Linked DNA regions of Homo sapiens: regions 2, 3 and 4 are each linked to region 1. Evidence: fine-mapped expression QTL. A gene starts in region 1. Each other region holds a variant in brackets. All regions are shown on one strand. Distances are between the middles of the regions. Region 1 holds the start of GSTO1 (glutathione S-transferase omega 1). Region 2 overlaps COL17A1 (collagen type XVII alpha 1 chain). Region 3 overlaps CFAP43 (cilia and flagella associated protein 43). Region 4 overlaps NEURL1 (neuralized E3 ubiquitin protein ligase 1).

The links. PIP is the estimated chance that this variant, and not a neighbour inherited with it, causes the effect. A credible set is the group of variants that fine-mapping cannot tell apart.
Region 2: its variant is the best candidate, but not a certain one, in a credible set for the expression of GSTO1 in tibial nerve (GTEx, PIP 0.57).
Region 3: its variant is the best candidate, but not a certain one, in a credible set for the expression of GSTO1 in tibial artery (GTEx, PIP 0.55).
Region 4: its variant is the best candidate, but not a certain one, in a credible set for the expression of GSTO1 in tibial artery (GTEx, PIP 0.75).

What each region holds. Positions count from the first base shown.
Region 1 is chr10:104,253,052-104,257,214 of GRCh38, forward strand. It overlaps GSTO1 (glutathione S-transferase omega 1), which reads left to right and starts at 1,841. Exons shown (of 6, transcript NM_004832.3): 1 at 1,841-1,911; 2 at 2,112-2,220. The coding sequence starts at 1,878. The region is part of intron 1 of LOC124902497 (a long non-coding RNA gene); the gene reads right to left. RefSeq lists enhancers at 1,009-1,523, 1,858-1,917 and silencers at 1,988-2,247, 2,738-2,787.
Region 2 is chr10:104,066,574-104,070,736 of GRCh38, forward strand. It overlaps COL17A1 (collagen type XVII alpha 1 chain), which reads right to left. Exons shown (of 56, transcript NM_000494.4): 9 at 3,853-3,996. Among named protein-coding and RNA genes, the nearest start is that of COL17A1, 17 kb to the right of the region's middle. RefSeq lists enhancers at 365-1,020, 1,021-1,675. The variant C/CTGTT (reference allele first, on the strand shown) is at 1,718.
Region 3 is chr10:104,144,170-104,148,332 of GRCh38, forward strand. It overlaps CFAP43 (cilia and flagella associated protein 43), which reads right to left. Exons shown (of 38, transcript NM_025145.7): 29 at 3,722-3,829; 30 at 2,094-2,180; 31 at 1,307-1,395. Among named protein-coding and RNA genes, the nearest start is that of SFR1, 24 kb to the left of the region's middle. RefSeq lists an enhancer at 2,622-3,153. The variant A/T (reference allele first, on the strand shown) is at 2,314.
Region 4 is chr10:103,585,449-103,589,611 of GRCh38, forward strand. It overlaps NEURL1 (neuralized E3 ubiquitin protein ligase 1), which reads left to right. Exons shown (of 6, transcript NM_004210.5): 5 at 4,066-4,163. Among named protein-coding and RNA genes, the nearest start is that of NEURL1-AS1, 70 kb to the left of the region's middle. The variant C/G (reference allele first, on the strand shown) is at 1,710.

The sequences.
Region 1 (4,163 bases):
CCAAAGCTAGCTTAGGGGGAGCAAAACAGGCTTCCTGCCTTAAGGGTACCACTTTGCTTCTGGGGCAGAAAGCAGGGGCTTTTAAAGGGGGCAGTTGGTATGAACTGCATGCTGGGGAGGGAGCGAGTGGGTGGGGGTTCGCATGACTCACTTTGGTGCTTTATCTGCTGGGTTGTGCCATCATGGGCAGAAGTCATTTGTAAAGTGGCCTTGTCTCAGGCATACTTTTGGATGTAAATGGACTGTTATCTCTGGAGGCAGTCTCCTGGGGGGTGAGAGTCCTGCTCTGGAGCTTTTAAGTAAACACCCAGTTAGATAAGCTTGCCCTGTAGGGAGTGTCAGGTGAAGGGAAGGTAAAAGATGATAATTGCATTTCTAAAGAGCTAAGTAGGAAGTGGGGAACAGGGAGAAAGGAGGAAACAGAGAAGATGGGAGAAATAAATAATGTAAAAAATAACTCATCCTCTATCTCTTAGAAAAATGGGAGTACTGTTATATTACCAGGGCTCCAAAACACAAATGTTTAATAAGTGGGAGAGTTTTGAAAGCAGCACCATTATTCTGAGGTTGATAATATCCAGGTTTGTGCTGTCTCCTATGGGTTAAAATGAAAAGGATGTATCCTACAGGTGACGGTAGGGACAGAGGCCCTCCCAGTAGTCACGTTAAGCTAGTACTGACAGAAAAAGGAAAAGCCTGTCCAGGTGGCTGGGCAACCCTGCAGCGAGGCATAGATGAGCTTGTAAATCAAAGGAAATGACCAAGGTGAGTCTCAATCCTTTTAGAGGTTTATTTTGCCAAGGTTGAGGACACATCTGAGAAAAAGGAACACAAAATCACAGGAACATCTGTGATCTGTGCTCTTTCCAAAGAGGGCTTGAGGACTTCAATATTTAAAGGGAAAGAGCAGGCAGTAGGGGAAAGTGGAAAGTAAAAAGGGAAGGTAGATAAAAGGGGAGAGTAGTTGCATTCTTTGGGGCCTTTGATCAGCATTCACTGAATGCGCATGTTACATTCGTGAAAGGAGGTCGTAGAGGAATAGTCAGTTATGCATTCGTCTAGTGCTTGGTGAATCTGCATTTTTACAAGATTAAATATAGGGTAGAGGAAGCGGTCAAATTGCATTTTTCTCCAGCGAGAGGAAGGATGACTCCTAGACCTGTCTTTGTCCCATACTTGGGAAGATAAGCTGTTAGTTTACATTGCCAAGATGAAATTCAACTGATCTGTTTTAGAGTAAAGATCTTGCGGGCCAACAAGGAATTTCCTTGGGGAGGTGTGTGGCCTTTGATCTTTGTAGCTATTTAGCAACAAAATGGGAGGCAGTGTTGCCTGACTCAGTTTCCAAGCTTGACTCTTCCCTTTGGCATAGTGAGTTTGGAGTCAAGAGATTTTTATTTTCCCTTCACAAGCTGAACAGGAGCCTTTGGAGAGAACGCTCTGGACCGGTGAGTGAGCCATGAGGTCGGGCCACAGGCTCTGAAGTCGTGAAGCCTTGGGACGGAGCGGGTGGTGCTTCGAGGTCAGTGTCACGGGAGGGAGGTCAGGGTCAGGGTCAGACGTGGAGCCCCGTGGAGTGCGGAGTGGTGACCCCTTCGTTCGGGGGCGGAGGGATGACTGAGCATTTATAACTTTTGTGTATCTCCCCGTGGGTGCAGCCCTTGGCCAGCGAGATGCTTTGACACAGCCCCTTAAGATGTTTTAAGGGCTATCCCATAAAGCCGGGAAGGCACAACGGGTGGAGCTGGCGGCCGCCGGGGGCAGGCACTTTTGAGCTAAGGAGGAAGCGGGGGAGGGAAGGAGGGCGGGAAGGACGCGCCACCTACTTCCTGAATCCCCTGCAAACCCCAGAGGAGCTCGGCCTGCGCTGCGCCACGATGTCCGGGGAGTCAGCCAGGAGCTTGGGGAAGGGTGAGGCCTGCCCGCCGCGAAGAGGGGGTGATCTCGGCGACCCCCGGCGGCATGTTCGAGGCTGCTCCGGGAGCCCAGCCGCCCGGGAGCGCCCCACCGGCGGGGAACGGGTCGGAGCTGCAGTGGGACGCGGGGGCGGTGGGATACGGGGGGTCTCGACACCTCTCTGGGCCGTAATCGCCTTCGCTTCTCCCCGGCAGGAAGCGCGCCCCCGGGGCCGGTCCCGGAGGGCTCGATCCGCATCTACAGCATGAGGTTCTGCCCGTTTGCTGAGAGGACGCGTCTAGTCCTGAAGGCCAAGGGAATCAGGTGGGCACCCAGGCGGGGGACGCTCCCCGAGCCGTCCGGGAGCCTGCTGCAGGCGGCGGGGTGGGGTGGGGTCTCAGCCCCCTTCTACCCCCCTCCCACCAGCGTCCTTTACTGCACATTAAACTATTCTCGGCCCTTTGGAAAATAGCAAGTTATAGGCCATTCCCCTAGGAAAAATAGGCCACAGATTCCAACGGTCTAGGACACCTCATTTAGATTAACCAACCATTTAATGGATTAGAAAAGCTGAGGCTCCAGTGATGTTAGTGATTTGCCCGGTAATAACCGGCAGCAGCTCTTTTAGCTTTGGTAGGTCACGAATTCCTGGTCCAGAGTCCTTTCGCTTTCGCCCTATTGTGATTTCCCGTTCTTATTCCAGCTTAACTGTTAGTTGTTATTCTGAATGTATTGTTCCCTCCTAGAATAGTAATTTACCCCAGTACAGCAGAGTTTAGACCCTGACCCTCCTAGGGTAGTGCTGAGTTTACTGCACATATTCCTGTGGATTGGGCTGTTGGTTGAGTCAAATAGAGGGAAGTGTCTGTCTAGCTCATCCTTCTGCAGAGCCTGTTTTGAAACTAGCATAGTTTTTGACTTACGGGCTATCCACAGGATATGTGCAACAGTCACTTGACTTTTCTCTGACACCAAGTATCCATTGGAACCACTTCCCTTCCCATGACCTTTGGATGTCTGTTGATTAGACATTTATTAGATACCTTTGGTGTGGAAGGTTCTGTGGAAGTTTAAAACAAACCCCCTATTCTTAAGGAATTTTCTGTCTGTGTGCTTAGTGTTTGTGAACTAATTTTAGTCTTCTAAGGGGATAATCTTTAGGGGTAGGCAATTATTTTCCCTAAAAGAAAGGTAAAATGCATTTAAAAAATACATTTGAAGGGGATTTGTCATTACTTCACTAAGAAATGCATCTCATTTGGATGAGATTATGATTCTGAACACATAGAGTACTTACTATTTCATAATGTTTCTCAAAAACACTGTCATATTTGCTGTGATAGAACTCTTTTATTGTACTAAGAGAAATCTAATGTAACCAAAATTGAAAAAAGACATTTTTTGGTACTCATTTATTTGAAAAGTCCAGGAGCATGACACAGCTGGATTCAGAGGCACAAAGTCCTGGGTTATGTGCTTCACCCTGGACCTTTAGTTTGAAAACAACCCTACCTTATTTACTGGGGCAGTTTTCCAAAGGAACATTGAAACTATCTTCCCCTAATAGTGTGGGGTAGAGGGGAGGAAGAGAGTGGTTAACAGCTTCCAGACAGTGCAAACAACAAAGGTCTACTACATTAATAGACCAGTTTTAAGCTTGAGCCCGAGGAGGCTTTTACTGGGAAAGTACTAGATTTTAACCACATGATATGACTTAACAAAGCATGGTTTTCTCTAAAAGATGCATCTTCCAACTTGCTGTGGCAGGTGTGTAGACTTGTTGGCTCACAATGCCAGCTTACCAAAATTCATGTGTGTTCTGACATACTTTTTTTTTTTTAAATAACAAAAGCCCAGGATCTTTTTGTTTTCATAGTAACAAAAGTTTTTGTTTTATAGTTCAAAAATGTTGATAATTCTTTGGCAAGGAGCCAAATAATTTTTTTTTTTTTTGCAATGGCTGGTACTTAAGTGTCCAGTATTGTCAGCACATGAACCTTTTAAATTACATGCACACCTGTGCTCATGTTCAAATTGGATGTTCCTTTGTTTACATGGGGGATTATGTATTTAAATCCTCAAATGAAATGCTGTTCTAGCTACAGCTGTGGATGGGAAAATAGAAAACAAAAGGTATTGGTGTCTATTTTTTTTTTAGTAATCTGTTCTATTGAACATTTATTCAGCCTTGACAATCATATGGACCTAGCTCCTTTCTCTTAGTTCCTCTACAGTCTCAGGCAACATACAAGATAGACCTAAATACA
Region 2 (4,163 bases), 190 kb before region 1:
AGGAAAAAAAAGAGCATAGTAAAAAGCCCTCACCCAATAAAAAGCTCTGGAATCCCATAACACGCTTGCCTCCACTTTACATCTCACAAAGTAGAGGACAGGGAGATCAGGGAGTAACAGGAAGGCTGGAGGAAGAGGAATCTGGGGATCATAAAGAAGCTAAACCCAATGCTCCCGTAAATCCTTATCCAAACTTGAGGAGAGAATTAGAACAATGTAAGAAGGACATTGAGAATTTCCCTATTCCTTCTAAACAGCAGATGTCTAATATGTACCCTCTTAGAGAAGTCCCTATGGGACAGGGAGAAGTTGGATATGTAAGTGTGCCTCTAACAAGTACTAAGGTTAGGAATTTTAAATAGGAAATAAGGCCGCTCTTGGAAAATCTCCTCGGTGTAGCAAAGCAGCTAGATCAATTTTTAGGACCCAATTTTTGTACTTGGGCTAAGATGATGTCAATCATGACTATTCTGTTTATTGAGGAAGAGAGGGGAATAATTAAAAGGGCAGCCATGACCATTTGGGAAAGACAGCATCCTCTCGGGCAAGGAGTCCCGCCAGCTGAGCAGAAATTCCTAAATGCAAATCCCAGATGGAATAACAATAACCCCAAAGATCGGGCCCAAATGCAGGACCTAAGGGAACGAATAATTAAAGGGATTAAAGAGTCCACTTCAAGGACACAGAATGTCTCAAAAGCATTCGAGCTTCAACAAGTAAAAGAGGAGACTCCCTCTGCATTTCTGCAGAGGCTCAGGAATAAAAAAAAAAAAAAAAAAAAAAAATCAGGATTACATCCAGAGGACCTAGTAGGGCAAGGCCTTTTAAAGGTTAATTTTATGACTAAAAGCTGGCCTGATATTACTAAGAAACTGCAAAAAAGTTGATGGATGGAATAAAAAGCCAATTAAGGAATTAGAAGGTTTTTGCGAAAAGTAAGAAACGAATTGGAAAAAGAGAAAGAGAGAAAGCCAAAGCTGTCCATCTTGCAGACGGACAGAGGGGAGCCACGGCATGGCTCACGCTGGTGCTCAGAGAGAGAAAGAGTTAAGCTGCTGACCCTGAAGGCAAGGGAGCCGGCTGTGCAGCTGCAGGTGTGGGGGCGGCAGGAGCTGCAGAGCCGAAGCAAACAGCCGAGATAAAGGTGGACAGTGTGAGAGAGCTAATGTAAGTAAGCTGTTAACATGGCGAGTGCGCTGGCGCCCAGAGAAAGAAGAAGAAACTGAGTGTAAGGGAAAGAGAAAACAGGGATGACAGAGACAGAGAGATTAAAAAAAAAGAAAAAAGAAAATAAGCGAAAGAGAAAGAGACGGGAAAAGACAGAGATCAAAGACACAGAAGGTGAAACTGGGGAGAGACATAATGTAAAAGGAAAAAAGAGTACAAGAGGAAGAGAGAGAGACAGGGAAAGAGAGAGAGGCCATGTAAGACGGGAGATGGGGAGACAAAGGTGCAGGTGGGCAGTGGCTGCCATGGCCCTGCTGGCGGAGGGGAGTCTGAAGTTGATCTTCGGCAGGGCCCTGGTAGTGAGCACCCCACATCAGGTCAGGAATATATTAAATCAAAGAGTTGGGAGATGGTAAACTAATTCCCAGATTTTAAAATATGAAGCCATATTATTACAAAAAGATAATTTAGTCTTGACAACATGTATTTTCTTGAATCCAGCCAGCTTCTTATGAAAAGGAGAGGAGAATAAAGAGGCATCAAATCATAA[C/CTGTT]TGGATATCATAGAATGTCAAACTAAAGTTAAACCAGACCTTAATATCAAACTAAAGTTAAACCACCCCATTACATAATGGGATGAGACTGTTTGTAAATGGGTCATCCCAAGTAATAAATGGTAAAAAACACAATGGCTATGCTGTCATTAATGGAAACAAATAATCCTTATGTGAAAAAGGTAGATTATCCAATAATTGGTCAGCCCAAACCTGTAAATTACATGCTCTTAACCAGGCCCTCAAGCTTCTAGAAGGCCAAGAAGGCACTGTATATACTAATTCCAAATATGCCTGTGGAATAGTACACACCTTTAAAAAGATCTGGACAGAGCGGGGCCTAATAAATAGCAGGGAGAAAGAATTTGTACATGGGGAACTGATCAAACAAGTTTTAAAAAGCCTCTTGCTTCTAGCAGAGATAGCCATAGGCAAAACTATAGAAGCTGTGGGGAACAGGCTTGCAGATAAAGCTGCTAAGCAAGCTTCCCTGGAGGAAGAAGTTAGATTGTTTAGCCTAATCCCACAGATCCCTAAGGTGATATTAAAACCCAAATTTTCTAAAAAGGAGGAGGAAGAGCTGGGCAAGATAGGGGCCACTCAAACTGAGGATGGGAGGTGGGTGCTCCCTGATGGGAGAGAAATGATAAGCAAACCCATAATGAGAAAACTGATGTCCATACTGCATAAAGGAATTCACTGGGGTCCCCAGGATATGTGTGATGCAATACTAAAAAATTATGGGTGTATAGGGATCTATACCCTTGCTAAACAAGTGTGTGGGTGTTGTGTAACCTGCCAGAGAATAAACAAAAAAGTAGTTAGAAAACAGACTACCAGAGGAAGACCTCCTGGGTTAAGGCCATTTCAAAGCATTCAAGTAGATTTTACAGAAATGCCCAAAATAGGGAGACTAAAGTATCTACTGGTAATGGTAAACCACCTCTCCGGCTGGGTGGAGGAATTCCACCTCCCAACTGCCACCGCCAGGAATGTGGTAAAAATAATCTTAAAACAAATTATACCTAGATTTGTCTTGATAAAAAATATTAATTCGGACAATGGGTATCACTTTACCTCAAGGGTGCTAAGGGGAATTATGGAAAGTTTACACATTAAATGGGATTACTATACCCCTTGGCATCCCCCTTCCTCTGGAAAAGTAGAAAGAATAAGTCAAATTCTCAAAAAGCATATTACTAAACTAATCTTTACAACTAAAATGCCTCGAATGTCTCCCAGTAGCACTCCTTAGGATTAGAACAGCCCCAAGCAAAGACTTTGGACTGTCCCCTTACAAGTTATGATATGGACTCCCATATTTAGATAGGACTACTGATCTTCCTACTATGGAAACCAAAAACCAGTTTTTAAGAAATCATATACTGGCCATATCCTCCACCCTGTCATCCTTTAGCTTAAAAGGACTTCGAACTCAAACCCCGCCTCTTGAGTTCACAGTTCACCACTTCCAGCCTGGCATCTCGGTGCTAATTAAGACTTGAAAAGAAGATAAGCCCCACCCAAGCTGCCAAGGTCCCTATCAAGTGGTCCTAACCACTGAAACGTGACAACGAACAGCTAAACGAGGGTGAACTCATTACACTCAAGGGACTGGTAAAAGAAACCCAAGAAGGAAGGGAAAAGGGCAAATGGGAAGTGTATAAATCACCTAAGGAACACTTAAAGCTAACTCTAAGGAAAACCTAGAAGAGAGCTATAAGCAAACCCCTTCATTAGGGGTGGATATGGTTAGGATTAATCCTAACACACAAAAGAAGACCTGAGTATTGGATAGGGCCCAGTACTAGGGGTGGAAAGTAGGGAATATCCAATCAATCTAATAATCAACATAACTAAAACCTCTACCCCCTAAACCATAAAATTCAATGCCTGCTGAGTCTTACATTGTGGGAATTTAGGAAACCAAAGGCAGCTGTCACAAGCAAACAAATATCTATGCCCTAAAACAGGTTGCTATTAGGGAAAGCCCTGTGCTAGCTGGAATGAGATTTGGTGGGCCCCAATTTCAAGTCTCACTTTCACTGTTCTCTGGGTCTCTGAGTCCACTCTTTGGGTTTGGATGGGTAAGTTTGTTTCTCACACTCCTCGGCAGCCTGGGCTGTCAGACTTACCCGACTGGGAGCTCGCTGTCACAATTTTGGTCTCCACAGTGCCTTTCTTGGGGATGGGGAGTGTGTTGGAGGAATTCCGGGTGGGGCTCACACTTGCCGATCGACTCCCCTTGAGCAAACGCTTAACATCATCCAATTCTGTCCCTGTGAAAGAATCCACAGACGTTTCTGTTAAGTCCAGAGTTCTTTCCTGAGTCCCTGTGCAACTGGGGGGAACATTTGTGGCATTCTGACTACTGGGGAGAATGGCATCTGCCTCACACATTGGAACTTTTTGCTTGGCTTTATAATATTCACATTTTACTAATGAA
Region 3 (4,163 bases), 110 kb before region 1:
GGAAAGTCAGCCTGGGAGAGAAGCTCATGGCCCAAGGCTATCAGTCTGACAGGTGTTGAAGTTAGGATTTAAAGTTGATTCTGTTTGACAAGAAAGCTTGTGCTTTTCCCACTGCTGCGGGAGGTCTCACTTCTTTTTCCACAAGGAGAAGGTATGTAATTGGGCTAATTATCACTCACTCTTTTAAAAATAGGAAAACCGCCGGGCGAGATGGCTCACACCTATAATCCCAACACTTTGGGAGGTTGAGATGGGTGGATCACGAGGTCAGGAGATCGAGATCATCCTGCTCAACATGGTGAAACTCCGTCTCTACTAAAAATACAAAAATTAGCTGGGCGTGGTGGCATGTGCCTGTAGTCCCAGCTACTTGGCAGGCTGAGGCAGGAGAAACGCTTGAACCCGGGAGGCGGAGGTTGCAGTGAGCAGAGATCGTGCCACTGCACTCCAGCCTGGGTGACAGACAGAGACTCCGTCTCAAAAAAAAAGGAAAACCAAAACAAGAGGCATGTTCTAGGTTAAATTCCCTAGGTTGCCTATAACCTGTCAGAGTTTGTATCTCAAACACAAACTAGCTGACTACATCTTTGTGACAAACTCCTTGATTTCTAGATTACATTTGATTGAAAACTGGAAATCTGCATTTATAATGGTGGAAATCAGTGATACTTTCTTAGAACTCTTTTCAAATGGTTATTTTCTACCATTTATACTGGCATCTTTCAAACTTTAGGCACAAGCACATGAGATACTCTGAGGAAAAGCAATTTGTGGTCAAATAAGTTTGGAAAACGCTGCTTACTCTGTTTCTTACACTTGGAGATCCAAAGGCCAATAATACATTCTGCAGTAAAAGAAAAGCTGCTTAACTTCCTTTTTTTAACCCAGTATTTTCCCCAAACTTAGTTAGTCCTGGAAGCCTATTACAAGTAGTTCCGATTTATACATCAGGGAACTTGTGTTTGTTTGAACGCACTTTAGAAAAAACTGTTTTTAAATCTGTGTGCCATCTATGATGTAAGAGGAACTTCCTTAATGTACAAAGCAGAATCTACAATAGTACCGTGCTTACACAGATCCTTAACTATTTTTAAATAATGAAAATAAATCATTATTCTCTACCTTAAGATATAGACATAATCTCAAAAAATACTGAATTAGGATCAAAACCCTTAAACATCTCCACCTAAAAGATATTACACTGAATAATTCCATTTAATTGGGAGAAAAAAGCTGAAATCTAGTAACACTCCTCTTTATTTGCAAACTTTTTTCTCAGAAACACAATAGTGAAGGAGAAACAAACCTTGGTCGGCGTTTAAAAAGTTTGTAGAGTATATCCACTTGATGACCAGGAATTTCAGAAAATTCCTTTTTAAAGCTGCGATCCATAACCTAAGGACAAACATGACATTTGAGGACTGCAACTTGGTTTGGAAACCTTTTATTTGTTGACAATACTCTTCAAAATACAGGTGGTAGCACTTTGGTTTTAAAAATGCATGAAACCTTGATTTACAAAGTTGTTAGACATTAACCATTCTCTGTGCAATGATGTCTCAAAGATTTGTTTTGATAAGAAGCATCTAAGTGTATTAAAAATATTATTTCATATAACAGGTCTTAGAAATCATCCAGAAGTTTCCCAAAGAAGTGTCCCAAAATATATTTACCCAAAAAACATGAATGTTACTCTATTCTTTTCTTTTCTATTCCATTCTGTTCCATCTGTCTTCTTTATGCTATTCTATCCTATTCTTTTCCATTATAAAACTGCTGGTCATAACCTACTAAATTGATTTCATGGCCAAGTAATGGGGTCTGCAACCTAAAGTTTGAAAAGCCTTAAAGGCTAGATGATTTCCCTGTATTTTGTATAACAGAAAGCTTAAACCAGAGAAGCTTATAAAAATTCATTTTACACATGGATTTTCAAAAATATACAATGGCATAGAATGAAGTTCACCCATAGCTGAGAATTAAGTGGGAGAAAAATCTGTGAGAAAATTATATTATATCCCCTTTAACCTTCCTCCAATCCAGGCAGCAACAACTCTACTGCATTGTTGAGTGGGTAAGACAACAACTCTCACTTTGTCTTCTGCCAGTAAGTTGTCATAGTGCTCCTTGCACACATCCAGGTCTTCTCTAGATTTCCGAACAGCTTCTGAAGTCTGGCTCTATAACAGCATCAGGAATAGTTGATTGAAACTGGAGACTTTCCAGCATAAACAAAAATATTGGGGATACTAAAAAGAGCAAGGAATTTCCTAGTACAAGAGAAATATGTCTGTGAAGTATTTATTCATGAAG[A/T]TAAGATTTATAGAAGAAAATACACCAATTGGGGACTTTGAAAGAACACCCAATCACCTGTTTCTAAGTACAGCCAACTCTGTGTATGAGTGTGTGAGTGTCTATGGAGCACACTGCATTCTTGGTAAGTCAGTGTGGAGGATGAAAGTGCACAGGCTTCGGAATCACATGGACCTGGGTTCTGAGAGACTGGATATACATGCAAACAAGGGCCAGACCATATGTAACAACAGAATTCTGACCCACAACCTCTACAATCATCAGCTGGGAAACTAAACCACAGCCTTTTTAAGGATTGGCCTCAAACTTTCAGGGCTTGATCATTACCACCAGCTTCTATAATTTTGTCCCCATTTCCAACCTAGGACCATCCAGAGAAAGCCAAATATGTTCCCTAAACCAGTAAAATGAGTTGTCCCGCTTCTAATTGGTTTGCCTCTAGCTTCCTCATGCCAACAACTTCCAATGATGTTGCATCTGAAGCCCTCTCTTCTTTGCACTATAAAGCTTTCCTACTCCTTTCCTGCCTTTGAGTCTGCCAAAAGTAACTGATGGTGGATGAGTCCCTTGCTGTGCCAAGCTCTGAATAAACAGCATCTGCTCATTTGCATTTGGATGTTCTTCACTTATTCCCACAGTTCCAGCTGCTGCTCTATTACACACTAGTGGCTGACTTAGGCATGCTACCCAGACTCTCTGAGATGGTATCCTCATCTGTGAAAGAAATCTAGTATGCTGCAGGGTTGCTATATGTAAAGTTGTATTTAGAAGAAGCTTTGCATATGCTGTTTAATAGGCTCTTAGAAAAAAGTTCATGTCATTTTTAAGTCACACATTCATAAATGCTCTTTACTAATACTACTAACAAAAGCTGACATTTGTAGAAACATTATGTGATAAACATTTTGTATTCATTGTCTTTTTAATGAACCATATCTATCCAAGCTCATATTTAGAGTTTTTCATAATACGGCAGTTTTTCATTCTATACGCAAGCCCATTGCTTACATCTTAGTAAATCTTAGCGTGTCCAGAGAGAAAAACATTCCCTAGGTAAGAGCTTGCAAATAGCTTAAAAGGTTATATGCCTTGTCCTAGGTCCCACAGCCAGTGCTTTCAACCATGAAGCTATATGGCCTCATTTTATAAACCATGTCATATGAAAGCTACACAGTTCTTTTGGCTAAATGATTGCAGATGCAGAATCACCTAACTTTATTAACAGATTGGAATGGTTACTTTCACCTGGCCCTGGAGCAAAGTTCCAGACAGGGAGCCAAGGGATGCACATGGTTATGTAGGAATGGTGCAAGGAAGGAAGGAAGGGTCTAGACACGTGAGCTCTTGCTAAATGAGGGGCATGTCTATCAGAAAATGCTTGTATTCAGATTTCAGACACTATTCTTACTTTCTCGTGCTGTTTCCTTGTAAGGTAGTTGTTCAGGAATTTTTCTCTAGAGCTTAATTCTTCATCCAACAATAAAGAAAATGCAAGGTTACTTATTTTCAGTTCCTCCTGTAGAAATATTTAAGAAAAAGGTTGGTGGAATTACTTCCACCTGAGACAATATTTTCTATAGACTTGGCACTAATCAAGCAAGTTTATGACATACACATAAACTTTAAAATGTAAGAGAAACATTTTAAAGAAAAAGGGAATACAGCTTATTGAAATAACTTCAGTTATTTTACCTTTTTCATAATTTCATTGTAAGGTAAATCACATATACAAAAAATACATAACATGAATATATAATTTAATGGGTTATTATAAAGGCAAACACTCTTGTTAGCACCACTTATCGCAAGAAACAGAACTTTACGACTGCAGTTGCTTCTTCCAGGAGTCC
Region 4 (4,163 bases), 670 kb before region 1:
ATTATTGAGTTTGATGCCCAGAATCAGATCAACCCATAGTCTCACAGATACATAAACAGTCCAGAAGCACACAACCCACTGACCACTCAAAAATGAGAGGAAAAGGCCAGGTGCGGTGGCTCACGCCTGTAATCTCAGCATTTTGGGAGGCCGAGGCGGGCGAATCATGAGGTCAGGAGATCAAGACCATCCTGGCTAACACGGTGAAACCCCGTCTCTACTAAAAATACAAACAATTAGCGGGGCATGGTGGTGGGCGCCTGTAGTCCCAGCTACTCGGGAGGCTGAGGCAGGAGAATGGCTGAGCCCAGGAGGCGGAGCTTGCAGTGAGCCAAGATCGTGCCACTGCACTCCAGCCTGGGCGACAGAGTGAGACTCCGTCTCAAAAAAAAAAAAAAAAAAAGGTTTCCCCCAGCAGTTAACTTTTTGAGTCTCGGTTACCATTTCTCCAAAATGGAAATAAAGGTCCTCACCTTTAAGGAAGTTTGTGAGTCCAAATGAGAAAAAAAGGTTGGAATGTCAGTAGTCAGGTGGTGCAGGGTGGTGTCTGGTTGGGGGACTCGGGGGAATCCCTGAGCAGGCAGCCTTGGGGGAAGTGGGGCTGCAGAGTTCTGGGCCTGCCTTTTCTCGGGGGCACAGGGTTTGAAAGGACTGGGGGGATGTGCATTGAGTTAAGAAAAGAAGGGAGGAAGATTCTTTATTGGAAGACTTCTCAGAGCCTTTAATATGCACTTTGATTAAGGAGACGGTGATGGTGGTTTTGGTGTAGAGTTTTTCCATACTAATTTGACCGGAAATCTTTTCACAAAGTGTCTCCTGGTACCTTTGTACCCCAGAGTGAGCAGGTATTCATGCTTTCCAAGTGCCGGTCTTTGAACCAGCTCTGTGAGACTGAGCTGGTTTCGTTAGATTTACCTGGAGGACCTATTAAAGTGCAGATTCTTGGACCCCCCCTCCAGAGATTTTAATTCGGTAGACCTTGGACAGGTTCTGGACATCTGAATTGTTTTTCTTTAGTAAGTATGCTTACCCAAGTTTGGAGACCCCTGGGCCTCACAGCCCCTAGCCTAGACCTCAGCCCAGGAGGCTTGATAGATAAGATAATGTGTGTAGATGAGTGAGCATGAGGTAGTTACTCTATGAGATTGGCGTACTGTGTATAGGCACATGTGAGTAACTGAATACACATATGTTAATGCATGTAATGCTGTTGGCTTGTGAGAGCATGAGAAATCATATAAAAAACATTGGGGACTTCCACCTCTGCAAAGAGACCAAATGAAGATGGAGTGAAACATAAATAAAAAGGAAATGAAAAGCCTGGGTGCGGTGGCTCACATCTGTAATCCCAGCACTTAGAGAGGCCGAGGCAGATGTATTGCTTGAGGCCAGCAGTTCAAGACCAGCCTGGCCAATGTGGCAAATCCCCATTTCTACTAAAATACAAAAAAATTTAGCTGGGTGTGGTGGTGCACGCCTGTAAGCCCAGCTACTCGGGAGGTTGAGGCAGGAGAATCACTTGAACCTGGGAGGCAGAGGCTGCAGTGACCTGAGATAGTGGCACTGCATTCCAGCTTGGGCAACAGTGAGATTCCATCTCAAGAAAAGAAAGAGAGAGAGAGAAAGAAAGAGAAAGAGAAAAATCAAGCAAGCAGGCAAGATGAATCAGGCTTGGGTGAGAATTCAAGATGGAATAAAAAGAAATTAGG[C/G]TGGGATGCAAAAAAATAAAAAATAAAAAATAGTCAAGCTGATTTCATTGACCAGGATATACTACTCCTCAGGGCAAGGAAATTACATAAGAGTAAGGTACTTTCTTCCCTCAGCACCATCTAATAATAGCTAAGCAGCTTTCCAGTAAGGCTTCTGTTGCCCAAAGAGGTTTACTAGACTGGAGCAAAGGGGAGGCTTAAAAAAATCCAGATTTCTCTCTCCCAAGAGGAGGATAGGCCAAGGTGGGTGTTGAAGAAGAACCACCCAGAATTCAATATACATTCAACAAAGTGCTCCTGATCTGTTTGGAAAATTGGGCATCACAACCAGCAAATTGGTGTTTGAAGATCCTGACTGACTTCAAAAGAATAACTAACCAGTGGCAATGTATGAAGGGTCATTATTAACCTTATAGAGGAATGCTTGGCTTTGTGGCTAGCCTAAGTATACTAAAAATAGAAGGTTATTTCCTTCACTCATGTGTATCACAAAACATACAGCCAGTTCCATACTTATTGGTGAAACATCAGAAATATTCTCATGAAAGTCAGGAATATAATAGAGATGGCTTACAGATGTTGTTCTGAAAATTCTGGCCAATGCAACAAGGCAAGAAAAGTAAATAGGAGTTGTGAATTCCTGAAAGAAGGAGATGATAATTAACTTGGAAAAATATTAACACAGTAAGAGAAACCCTGTGGGCATCTATTGAATATTCTTAGAAATAATAACACAACTAAATGAATTAGAATAACTACAGATAAAAAAGATCTCATTGGGCACTTAGGTGTGTGCAGGGCATTATGTTAGGATTTGTAGGAGAGTCACAGGTGAATACTATTTCCTGTTCTAAGAAAGCTCATGGGCTGGGCGCGGCGGCTCACACCTGTAATCTCAGCACTTTGGGAGGCTGAGGCGGGTGGATCACAAGGTCAGGAGATCGAGACCACCCTGGTTAACATGATGAAACCCCGTTTCTACTAAAAATACAAAAAAAATTAGCTGGGCCTGGTGGCAGGCGCCTGTAGTCCCAGCTACTCAGGAGGCTGAGGTAGGAGAATGGTGTGAACCCGGGAGGTGGAGCTTGCAGTGAGCTGAGATTGCGCCACTGCACTCCAGCCTGGGCGACAGAGCAAGACTCCGTCTCAAAAAAAAAAAAAAAAGAAAGCTCATGGTTTCACTGGAGAAACAAAACTGGAGTCCTGGGCACAGAACAAATATTACCCCAGCCTTTGTGGTTGTGTAGTTGTATGTCTGTAGTGCATGTGTGTGTGTACTTGAGGGAGTAATGTGGTCTGGGGGTAGTCAGGGCGGCCCAGAGGAAGGAGTTTGAGGACAGCTGTCAGAGGCTCCCTGGACAGCCAGCTCTTTGAAGTCAGGGGCTGTCTCTAGCTTTCTGTCTGCACGGGGCCTGATGCCTGGTAGGTCCTTGGTAAGGATTTGTTGAAGGGAGGAGAGAAGGAAGGAGGGAAAGAGGGAGGCGAGGATTGTTAAAAAGGAGAGGAAGGCCGGGCGCAGCGGCTCACCCCAGCAATCCCAGCACTTTGGGAGCCGAGGCTGGCAGATCACGAGGTGAGGAGATGGAGACCATCTTGGCCAACATGGTGAAACCCCGTCTCTATTAAAAATATTAAAAAATTAGCTGGGTGTGGTGGCATGTGCCTATGATCCCAACTACTCAGGAGGCTGAGGCAGGAGAATCTCTTGAACCTGGGATGTGGAGATTGTAGTGAGCCGAGGTCGTGCCACTGCACTCCAGCCTGGCGACAGCGAGACTCCGTCTGAAAAAAAAAAAAAAAAAAAGGAGAGGAAGTGAGTGACGGAAGGAGGAAGGAGGGGAGGAGAGAATCTATGATCAGAACAAGGTGGGAAAAAGTGAAGGCACTGCAGAGGTGCCATGCAGAAAAGGTGGGTGATATCTGGGGACAGTGGTGAAGAGCTCAGGGCTCCGAACAGGAGGGTGAGGTTGCGGGGCAGGGGAGATGGTAATATACATGCTCCGGCCCAGGAAGCTTTGCAGAAAGCATACATGGGGAGGGGCGGAGGTAGGTGCCAGGCAGGGGCCTAGTTTGGAGCTGCTGTTTTAACAAGAAGAAAGCAGGATATGACCCTCCAGTTCATAGGTGAGAACAGAGGCCAGGCTGGGTGCTGTCTGGGGTCAAAGTCTTTAGCTGATTAGCTATACTCCACGGCGGTAATATCAAATGATCCCCGCGCCAGCCTGCAAAATCCCGCTCTTGGCCCTGTGGCTGGGCTGTGTGGTCAGGCCTGGGAACCCACTGTGAGGGACAGAGCTTTCTCCAGTTTGGCCTGGGCAGGCAGCTAGTGTGTCCTTCCCTCCCTCCCCTTTCACAGGCTCCACTATCCTGGCCGAGCGGGGTATCCCATCACTCCCCTGCTCCCCTGCCTCCACGCCAACCTCGCCCAGTGCCCTGGGCAGCCGCCTGTCTGAC